Linked DNA regions of Homo sapiens: region 1 is linked to region 2. Evidence: fine-mapped expression QTL. Tissue or cell type: putamen. Region 2 holds a variant in brackets; the other region holds the start of a gene. All regions are shown on one strand. Distances are from middle to middle.

Evidence for each region. PIP is the estimated chance that this variant, and not a neighbour inherited with it, causes the effect.
Region 1: it holds the start of ADAMTS2, and the variant in region 2 is fine-mapped to the expression of ADAMTS2 in putamen (GTEx, PIP above 0.99).

What each region holds. Positions count from the first base shown.
Region 1 is chr5:179,343,031-179,348,270 of GRCh38, forward strand. It overlaps ADAMTS2 (ADAM metallopeptidase with thrombospondin type 1 motif 2), which reads right to left and starts at 2,431. Exons shown (of 22, transcript NM_014244.5): 1 at 2,160-2,431; 2 at 737-1,131. The coding sequence starts at 2,298. LOC105377759 (a long non-coding RNA gene) reads right to left here. Exons shown (of 3, transcript XR_941311.3): 2 at 3,916-4,068; 3 at 3,331-3,749.
Region 2 is chr5:178,520,045-178,525,600 of GRCh38, forward strand. The region is part of intron 2 of COL23A1 (collagen type XXIII alpha 1 chain); the gene reads right to left. Among named protein-coding and RNA genes, the nearest start is that of COL23A1, 68 kb to the right of the region's middle. RefSeq lists an enhancer at 4,759-5,556. The variant T/C (reference allele first, on the strand shown) is at 2,567.

The sequences.
Region 1 (5,240 bases), 820 kb after region 2:
TTTCCAAATGCACCCCTCAGCTCAAAATAGAGAAAACCAACTTTTCAAAGAACCAGCTGGAGTTCAACAGGAAACCACAGCAGAAAAACCAATGATTCCCGGTCAGCCAAGGGGCAGAGGGCTAACTGGGCATTTCAGCATCACTGCCAGCTCCCTGGGCTGGTATTACCCGCACGCAAGGAAACAGGAAGACTGACTGCCAGCCCATAAGTCCACCACACACATATCACGCCAGTATGCACAAGGACGGACACAAACTCAACAGATGCTCAACACACTGATGTGCAGAAACCCAGACACATACGTGCACAAGAGACACTGGCACACGCACATGTTCACACAGGTGCACGGGCACCCAGATGCAGGTACACACCAACGTTCCACAACACATGTGCACACACTCACAAAGGTACACACACATACACGGACCCACCCCCGGATGCAAGCCAGAGACCTGTTCAGGCAGGCAAAAGAGAGAGGCGCACGCTCCTGCCTGCTGAGCCTTTTGGAGACCCGGGCGCTCCCCATGCATAAATGGCCCCCTGCTCAGACCAGTCAAAACAACCTGCTTTCCAGCCAAGCCCTTCAGTTGGAGCACGAGGCTCACTAAAGCACGGGAAGGGCGCGGAAAGTCCTCAGCGCAGGCCTTGCCCTCCCAAGGGACTCCCAGGTAACCCTTTTCCAAAACCCAGGCGAGAGCAGCGGAGAGAAAGGAGCTAGAGAAGTGCGTACTCACCAGCCCATCGCAGTTGCTGAGCGCCACAGAGGAGGCTTCGGCTAGGCCGGCCACGTCTCCGACGTAGAGACAGCTCCCGAGCAGGGGCTCCACGCGGGTGGTGCCCTTCTCGCCCTGCCACTCCATAGTGGCCCCGGGCGCCACGAGGCGGGCGTTGGGCCGCAGCCGCAGGTGCAGGTCTCGGCCAAAGACCGTGACATTGTAGAAGAGGTGACTGCCAGGCTCCTCCTCGTTGCCTCCGGGGAAGCTCGGGGTCCGGACCGGGGCGGCCCTGCGGGCTCGTACCCCTGCTCTGGACGTAGCTGCCGACACCACGTGGGACACCAAGCGGCCCTGGGCGTCAGTGCGCACGGGCACCGCCAGGATGCGCTCCGCTCCGTGCCCCAGGGGCCCGCCTGCAACGGGAAGGGGCGTTAGATCGGCGGAGACCACGGAGCCCCAGTGCCTCAGAGACCCGCCGGCAAGCCACGCCCCCCCAGACCCCGCCCCACTGCGAAGGGAAGGGGCATTCCGCCAGGCGACCCCAGAAGCCAGCCTGCACCTCCCCGGCTTTCCTGCAACCGGGAAGGGGCGTTAACAGGGCCACCACTCCGGGGCTCCGCCACTCCCCAGCCGTTCCCTCCTCCGGAGACCTTGCCTGCCAAGAGCTCTGCCCCCTGCCCCGTTCAGGGTTGGGGCTCGGTGGGAACCTCCCCGTGCCCGAAGGGACGACCCCGTCAGAGAGTCCCCCGACCCTTGCACCTACCGTCCTTGGCAGGACGTGGAGCTGCTCGGAAGCCATTCCGGGTTGGCCCCCTTACCCGTGTGCCACGACCCCTCGGCGGGCCCCTGCCGCCCGAGTGCCCTCACCGCCAGCCTCCGGAGCGGCGGAGTCTCGGCTTCCCCGAGCACGAGCGGCCTGTCCTGCCTGTCCAGCTCCCGCTCAGCCCGCTGCCGGCCCCGTCTCCCCGAGCGCCCGAGGACTGGGAGGGGTGGAACAGGGTCCCTCCGATCTCCGGGGATTCCCTGCGGGGCGCCCCAACCAATCCTTAGGGCCCAAGGCTACGCGCTCGGCAGCCGGCTCCTCCGGAGCGTCCCCGGACGCGAGCCCCGGCGCCGCCTCGCCCTGGCTCCCCCCTCGGACCCGCTGGGGCTGACTCTGCGCTCTTGGCCGCGGGGCTTTTCCCGGCCCTCCGTCCCCACCCTCCGCGACTCAGGAGCCGCCAGTGCTCCGAGGCTCCCCCGGCCCAAGGCGCTCGGGGGCGGTGCGGGGCGCCCCCTGCGCGACCAACCCGGCCCCGAAGTTGGCCAACTTGGCCCCGGGCGGGGCGCGCGGAGTTTGCCCAAGTCAGGCTGGACGACGCCTGGGGAGGGGGCGGCGGGGCACGCGGGACAGGGCCAGGCCGGCGGGGGTCCCGGGGAGTAGGGGCCGGGCCGCACCTACCTGGGGGGTCGGCGGCGGCGGCGAGCCTGGCGTTCGCGGGCGGCGGCGGCGGCGGCAGGAGCGGCGGCGGCAGCAGCAGCAGCAGCAGCAGCAGCGCGGGGCAGAGCAGGCGGCGAGCGGCTCCCGCCGGCGGATCCATGGCAGCCGGACTGCAGCCGGGGCCCCGCACTCGCAGCCGGCGCGAAAGTTCCCCGCGAGCCGCCCAGCCCACATCTGGGGGCAGCTGGAGCCGCCCGCAGCTGCAGCACCGCAGGGCGCGGGGCGGAGGAGGCGAGGCGCGGAGGGGCGGGCGGGGGAGCGCGGAGGGAAGGCGGGGAGAGGGAAGGAGCGAGCGAGCGAGGGAGGCAGGCGGGAGGGAGGGAGGCGAGCGAGGGGGAGGGCGGGGACGGCGGGCGCCTCAGCCTGCGGTGACCCGGCGCATCTTGGCGCGGCCGCCGCCGCCGCCCGCTTCCCTCTTCGCGCCGCCGTCGCCGCGGTGCCGGGCTCGCAGCGAAGCAGAGACACCCCGAGGCGGCGGCAGAGAAGCGCCGCGGGCCGGGCCGGGGGAGCCCCGCCGCCAGCCACCCCAGGGGCACAACCTCCGAGGAGCGGCGCCGGCCGAACGTCCCCACCTAGAGAGCCCTTGGGGTGCCGGGTCCCACCCATCAGCCCTGGAATTCAAGGGGTGCATCCCCCTGTCTCTGTGCTCTGGGGCAGGACAGGGTGAGGGAATGAAAGGGGAGGGGGGACTGACTACTGGGTCCAAGGTCTGAGCCAGGCCGAATGCCCAAATAGAGGCCGCAAAGGCCAGAAGATGCTGTTAGGAGGGTACACCCAGGGCGCGACCCCAAAGATCAACTTTTGCCCTTACTGAGAGAGGCAAGGCTCCTTCAGTCCCCAGTTCCTCTTCCTCTGAAGTCCCTGTCCCCTGTCCCCCATCTGCCTTCCCATCCCTCCGCTGCAGCCTCAGCACAGCCTCTTCCTGCCAGACCTGGGCTCTCTGCCCATGAGCACAGTCAGGCTCCTGCCCTCACCTGTCCTCAACCCCACGTATGCATTCTGTCCTCCCGCCATTGCACTCCCGGCCCCCAACCTGAAATGGCCTCTCCAAGCTCTGCCTACCTTTTCCACCCAAGCATCCAAGGACACCTGGGCCCATTCTGGGGCCAGTTTGCTGTTAGAGCCCGTTGCCAACCGGAACCCCTCCCCAGTCCCTCCTCTCCAGCAAGGCCCTGATCCTCCCATGCTGTCTGAGCTCAGCGGCCTCTCTCCAGGGCCTGCCTGAGAGCCCCCTCTCAGGCTGTTGATCATCTCTGCCCTGGGACCCCCAATTTCTGCCTCACTTCCCCAGAGGGTGAACACCCACCCCTTTGATTTTCTCATTTGCCCTGCCCCAGGTCTGTGTGGCCAGGGCTTTGGTCTTTGCTTTGGCCAGGGGCAGAGGACCCGGAGATGACTCAGGCCTCTCCCTGCTGGCCAGGAGGTCCCAGTCGTTGGGGGAAACACGACTTACACAGCAGGCTCTAACTGTGATCTCACGTCCTTGGTTCTTTCGATTGTGGGTCCTGGGTGTGAGAGCATCGCAGCTGGACAGCCATCTTCACCTGCAAGCTGTACTCTTTCTGTGTCACCTAAGGGTGCCCGAGGCTGGATCCAGCTCCCAGGCATGGTGAGATGTCACATGGAAATTTAGATTGGTAACTTTTCTTGAGATATTGGAAGATGTGGCCACGCTAGCCCCACAGTCCTGCTTAGCAACCATTAAATGGGCACTTACCTTGCAGTTTGTGGCAGGTCCCGCCTCTCCTCACTCTCTGTAGGCATCTGCTCTCGTGACCTGTGATGACCCAACTGGTTCCAGAGAAAGTTGGAACTGGAATCCTAGTATACCACAGAGATGACTCCAGAGCTGGGCATCCAGGAGGACTTCCTGTAAGAGGTGGCATGAGTTGAATTGTGAAGGCTGGGGGAGCTAGGCAGCCCAGAGTTGGGTCCAGCCAGTTGCTGTCCTGGAACCCATGACGCATTCCTCCTGTGGTTGTCAGCGCTTCCATCCTCTTCGAAACACGAGTGAAACCCAACCAGCAGCCGCCCCTACTTCAAGGGGCATGTTCTGCACCTTCCTGCCGTGTCTATGGTTGGGTATTTCTTTACACAGCGCCTAAAACTTTTTTCAATTTTTTAAAGGATACTTTAAATCACTACTATAAATGGAAAAGCCAGCATCTCACCATGTTTCCATAAATCAAAGATAATTGCTAAAAATAAATACAACAAGAAGAGAAATGTTATCAAATTCCAGATACTTTGACCTGCTAAAGATACCGAAGGCTGAAGCTGATTAGTAAGTGTTACAAAAGCCTTAAGATGGACTAGCACAGAGGTCGTTGTTCTGATGTGATTGGAAGGATGAAAGGAGGCCTGAAAAGGAGTAACTCTGACTTTATGAGTTGATGGCATCTTCTAACAGGTTCACAGAGCTAAATTATTTTGTATACTTTGGGATACTTGCTTTGGGATATTTTTGGGGGAAAGAATTTGTCTCCTGGACACTGAATAACCCCAGGCAGCTGATTCTTCCCACATCACCCGTGCCCCTGCCACCAGGGATGAGTTGGGGATGGAGCAGCACCCTTGCCTGGCCCTTCCTTTAGTGCCCCCACTGTCACCCACCAGGGTGGTGGATGAACAAGGCTCACATGCACCTAACTTCACAGTTAAACCCTCAGGGAGGTGGAGGAGACTTGCAGACACATCCCAGCCCGTGATCATTTGTCCTCCACTCAGAAACAAACAGAAAAACAAAAAACAACCAAAGAACAACAACAAAAATCTTGCTACTTCTTCAAACCTCCATGATTCAAATCTTGCCTCTCCCCCCTTACTGGTGTTTGCCTCTTTCTCTGGTCCCCCTTTTCCTCTTCCAGGTAAAATACGGGACATAGAAGTCCCCAGTGGCTCTCTGCTCCTCTGCATGTTCAGTCTAGGTCCCAACGACAAAAACTAAGGGCCACTGGGCCAACGCCGCCGGATGTGTTGTTGAGCACATGCCACGTGCGTTCGTTTCTACTGGAGCCTGAATGTCTTCAGGTCTGGCTGTGC
Region 2 (5,556 bases):
ACAGATGCATGGGTGGATGGATGGATGGATGGATAGATGGAGGATGGTTAGATGGATAGATGGTCTGATAAATGGATGGATGGATGCATCTGAATGGTTGGACAGATGCATGTTGGATGGTCAGACGGGTGAATGCATCGAAGGATGGATGGATGGCTGGTAAGGAAGGAGGGAAGACTGGGAAGGAATCAGTGTGTGACTAGTAAGATTGGACAGTCCTTGACTTTGCTGCCAGAGCAGAGGCTCGGTGGAGGTAGCCAGTCATTGGTTCCCCAACTGTACTGCAGACAGATCTATCAGTTCCTCCAAGACCCCTTCGGAACTGCACCAACACCTCATACGACTCCTACATGTTCTCCTCATCACTGAAGAACTGATACGGAAGCTACTAAGGCCAAAGGACAAAAGCTAGGCCATTTTGGACCAGGGCTCAGGGCTCTGTCGATGTGTTTGGGAAGAAAGCACCTGTGAAACATCTCTCAATGTGACAAAGCCATGAACCAGGTTGCCCCATCCATGATCAATGAGACAAAGCAGACAGGAGGGGAGCACATGTGTTCAGAAGTGAGGTGGACCAGGGTTCCAATTTCAGCCCAGCCACATATTAGCTATGTGACCTTGAGCAAATCCCTTCTCCTTAAGTGAAGCTTAAGTGTTTCCATCTGTAAAATGAGGTCAGGCGATCCACTTCCTACCATGCTGGTGAGGATTCAATGAGATAACACTCTGTGCACGACCCCAGCATACAGCCTGGTTTATAGCAAACAATCCATCAATGTTAGTTTAATTTCATTCCATTCAGTTGTCCAGACGGTATTAGGAAACAAAGAATTTATAGGAATAATTTAGAGGAAGTCACAGTCCTGTGTCACTAAACAACAGGGTTGTATTCTGACAAATGTGTCCTTAGGTGATTTTGTCATTGTGTGAACTTCATAGCATGTACTTACACAAACCTAGGTGGCAGAGCCTACTACACACTGGGCTACGTGGTGTAGCCTATTGCCCCCAGGCTACAAAACCAGCACAGCTTGTCACTGTCCTGAATACCATAGATGATTGCAACACAGTGGTGAAAGTATTTATATATCTAAACATACCTAAACATATAAATATGGTATTATAATCTTACGGGACCACCATCATATATGTGGTACATCGTTGACTGAAATGTGGTTATGGGGCACATGACTTTATTACATTTACTCGCTAAAACTATTTAAAGCTGGCCGGGCGCGGTGGCTCACACCTGTAATCCCAGCACTTTGGGAGGCCAAGGCAGGTGGATCACGAGGTCAGGAGATGGAGACCATCCTGGCTAACACGCTGAAACCCCGTCTCTTCTAAAAATACAAAAAATTAGCCGGGCGTGGTGGCAGGCGCCTGTATTCCCAGCTACTCGGGAGGCCGAGGCAGGAGAATGGTGTGAACCCAGCAGGCGGAGCTTGCAGTGAGCCGAGATGGCGCCATTGCACTCCAGCCTGGGTGACAGAGCAAGACTCCATCTCAAAAAAAAAAAAAAAAAAACTATTTAAAGCCAACATTTAAGAATGAGGTAAACTGTGCATCAATTGATGGATGGATAAACAAAATGTGGTCTAACCATGCAATGGAATATTATTCAGCCATGAAAAGGAATGAAGCACTGATGGATGCTACAACATGGATGAACCCTGAAGTCCTTATGCTAAGTGAAAGTCAGAAACAAATGGCTACTTATTTTATGATTCAATGTATATGAAATATCTAGTCTAGGCACAGTCACAGAGACAAAGCAGTTAAGAAGTTACCAGTGGCTGGGGTCAGGGGTATAAAGGGAGTTATTTATTAATGGTTACACAGTTTCTGTTTGGAGTTATGGAAAATTTTGGCAATACGTAGTGGTGATGGTAGCACAACATATTGGGGATGTAATTCATGCCACCAAATTGTACCCTTCAAATGGCTAGCATGGTAATCTTTATGTTATGTATTTTTTACCACAACAACAAAAAAATTTCAAACAAACCAGAAAAAGAATAAGGTCTTAGCAAAGGAAGGATTCTTCCAGTCTGTCTAAAAAAAGAAAGAACTTTGTGCCATATAAACATTAAAAACTTTCCGAGTTAACTGGATGAAGGTGTCTTTTGCCCCTTGAGACCTAAAACGTGTTTTCGGTTTATGAAATGAAATTTGGAAACGACCTGGATGTTTTGCTTTATGTAATTTGGGGGCAGGAGAGAGGAAAAAGAGAAAAACTAACCAGGCGAGTTACTGCCTTTGGAAAACAACCAACCTTAGAATCGTGTTTTGGTCCTCTCAAATGAAGACATACATATTTAGCCCACGTGAGTCCCAGTCCGCACAGACATCACAGCAACAGGAGAAGTCATCTACCACACCCTAGGACCGGGGAATAACTCGCCACGCTTCCCCATTCAGCCAAGAGATTGTTCAAAAGCTGCACAAATGCTAACCCCAGTCAACCATCCACAGCTGCCCTCAGCCCACAACTGTGCCTGCCCGAGATTGTGACGAGCCGGTGGTCAGCACATGTAATGAAGCAAGGGGGTCACTGGAGAAAGAA[T/C]GTACCCAAGGGCAGGCAATGCGCTTGTATCTGAGGACAACGGGGACAGTGGTGGAGGGCACGATAGACGCGCTGTCTGTGATCCTCCCACAGTCTGATGACAGGACCAACACCAAAAGATGTGATCCAAGAAAGCGCTAAGCACCCATACAAGAGCACTGCCCAGGACCAGACGTGGCCTACGGGGACTGCCAGTGAGCTCTGCCCGAGGGCATCCTTCCCATTCAAGTCTCCCCCCAGTCTCTGATAAGAAGATCCACCTTGATGCTATGGACCCCAAGCGTGGCTTTATGGTACAATTTTAACACAGAGATCATTTCGGGAATGAGTTGGGCATCCCCTGCCCTATACTCTATTTCTCTGGCCCAGCCTCCCATCTATGTCCAGAACTGAATGTAAAAAAACTCCAGCCAGGCGTGGTAGCTCATGCCTGTAATCCCAGCACTTTGGGAGGCTGAGGCAGGCAGATCACCTGAGGTCAGGAGTTCAAGACCAGCCTGACCAACATGATGAAACTCTGTCTCTATTTAAAAATATATATATATATATATACATATATATATATATACACATATATATATATATATATATAGAGAGAGAGAGAGAGAGAGAGAGACAGAGGGAGAGACAGAGAGAGAGAGAGAGACAGAGAGAGAGAGAGAGAGAGAGCGCTAGGTGTGGTGGTGCGCGCCCGTAATCCTAGCTATTTGGGAGGCTGAAGCACGAGAATCGCTTGAACCTGGGAGGAGGAGGTTGCAGTGAGCTGAGACTGCTCCACTGCACTCCAGCCTGGGCAACAAGAACGAAACTCTGTCTCAAAAAAAAAAAAAAAAAAAAAAGAAAAAGAAAGAGAAACCTCTATGATGTGCACAAGTTCTGAGCAATCTACACGGCCTGGAGTTGAAGACACGTCACTGGGAACCGACGGGCCAGGAGCACCTCCAAAGCTCTGCGCCTGTCTAGCCACAGATGGAAATCTTCATCTCTGTGTCCATGGAAGCTCGAGGATGGTGCTTTCCTGTCATTTCCTTTCATTTATTGCTTTATCAGTGGCCGTAAGTGTTTCCATCACCAACCGAACAGCATATGTAAACCTGCACACTCTGAAAAAAATTCATTGAAACCCGGAATGATGAACAATTGGAAGGAGACTCTGCTCAATGCAGGCAACGCACATTCCAGATTCTGACATCCTTGTTCTCCCAAGAATCACTGCTGGGACGCAGCCACAACACAACCTGAGCTGTTACACGGGGAGAGGCAAGTTACACTACCTGGGCTCTGAACACGGCTGTCACTCACTGCAACCACTATTTCCTGAGACCTCTCCTATCTACGACCCTTCCTTTTCATGATCTCTGACAAGGACTTCAAAAATACAAACCTCCACAGGAATGAGCGTCTGCGGGGACACTGGTTCTGTGTCATACGGGAGGGTCTCTGGTGTATCAGCCAGGACCTTTATCTCCAAGGGTCAGAACCTGGGTCACGCTAGCTTAAATAACAAAGAGAACGTACTGCCCCTCTTGACTGAAAAATCCAGGAAGATTCAGGTCTGGCTGGATCCAGGCACTCCAATAACATCACCAGGGCTCTCTCCTTCCCCATCTGTCAGCTCTGTTTCCTCCATGTTGGCTTCATTCCCAGGGGAGCCCTCTTCACACTGTGGCCCCCCGCAGCTCCAGACCACATCCTGCCCGCTCTCCCCAGTGGAAAGAGACCCTCTCTAGTTCAGAAGTTCCAGGAAAATCCTAGAATCTGTCTCTTATGAGAATAACTGGGTCACATGGGTATCAGCAGAGCCTGGTGGTGGGGTCAGCCCATCCCAAGATACATAGCTTGGGAATGGGGTAGGGGCTTTACCCAAAGGGAAATCAGGGAACTGTCACAGAAAGGATGGGGGATGGATGTATCCAGAAAAAAATAACCCATGCTCAGCACAGGCAAAGGTCCTGGAAATGGTCGGGCATTGACCTGACCAGCTCTGGCCTGTACCAGCCTCCTCCCCCATGGACCACCTGGCCACACCTGCCCATTCTCCTGCAGACCTGGCCAACTTCCAGGCCACGCTGACCCGAGGCAGGGCTGGCTCTTGCCCTGCTGCCTGCCTGACGCCTCCTATGCCCCTGAAGCAGGGCCTTCTTTTTTCATAAGGGCCCCTGTCTAGAGCCCTAACAGGCCATGTGGCTCCACAACAGACCCACAGATCACTCACTCACTCACACACTCGCTCACTCACTCACGCAGCAATGCAGTCATTCATTCATTCAACAGCTGTCTGGGAGCCCAGCACTCTGCGGGACTCCATTTACACACGCACCACCCACCTAAACTGCGTAACTCTTTATGCTACGTGTTTTCATTTTAAGATGAAGAAAGAAACTAGGGCAACAAGAGGTTAAATAACTCGGCTAAGCTCACATGGCTGGTAAGAAATGGCGACACAGCGCGCAGACCCCAGGACCCGAAGGCTAAGCTCACATGGCTGGTAAGAAATGGCGACACAGCGCGCAGACCCCAGGACCCGAAGGCTAAGCTCACATGGCTGGTAAGAAATGGCGACACAGCGCGCAGACCCCGGGACCCGAAGGCTAAGCTCACATGGCTGGTAAGAAATGGCGACACAGCGCGCAGACCCCAGGACCCGAAGGCTAAGCTCACATGGCTGGTAAGAAATGGCGACACAGCGCGCAGACCCCAGGACCCGAAGGCTAAGCTCACATGGCTGGTAAGAAATGGCGACACAGCGCGCAGACCCCGGGACCCGAAGGCTAAGCTCACATGGCTGGTAAGAAATGGCGACACAGCGCGCAGACCCCAGGACCCGAAGGCTAAGCTCACATGGCTGGTAAGAAATGGCGACACAGCGCGCAGACCCCGGGACCCGAAGGCTAAGCTCACATGGCTGGTAAGAAATGGCGACACAGCGCGCAGACCCCGGGACCCGAAGGCTAAGCTCACATGGCTGGTAAGAAATGGCGACACAGCGC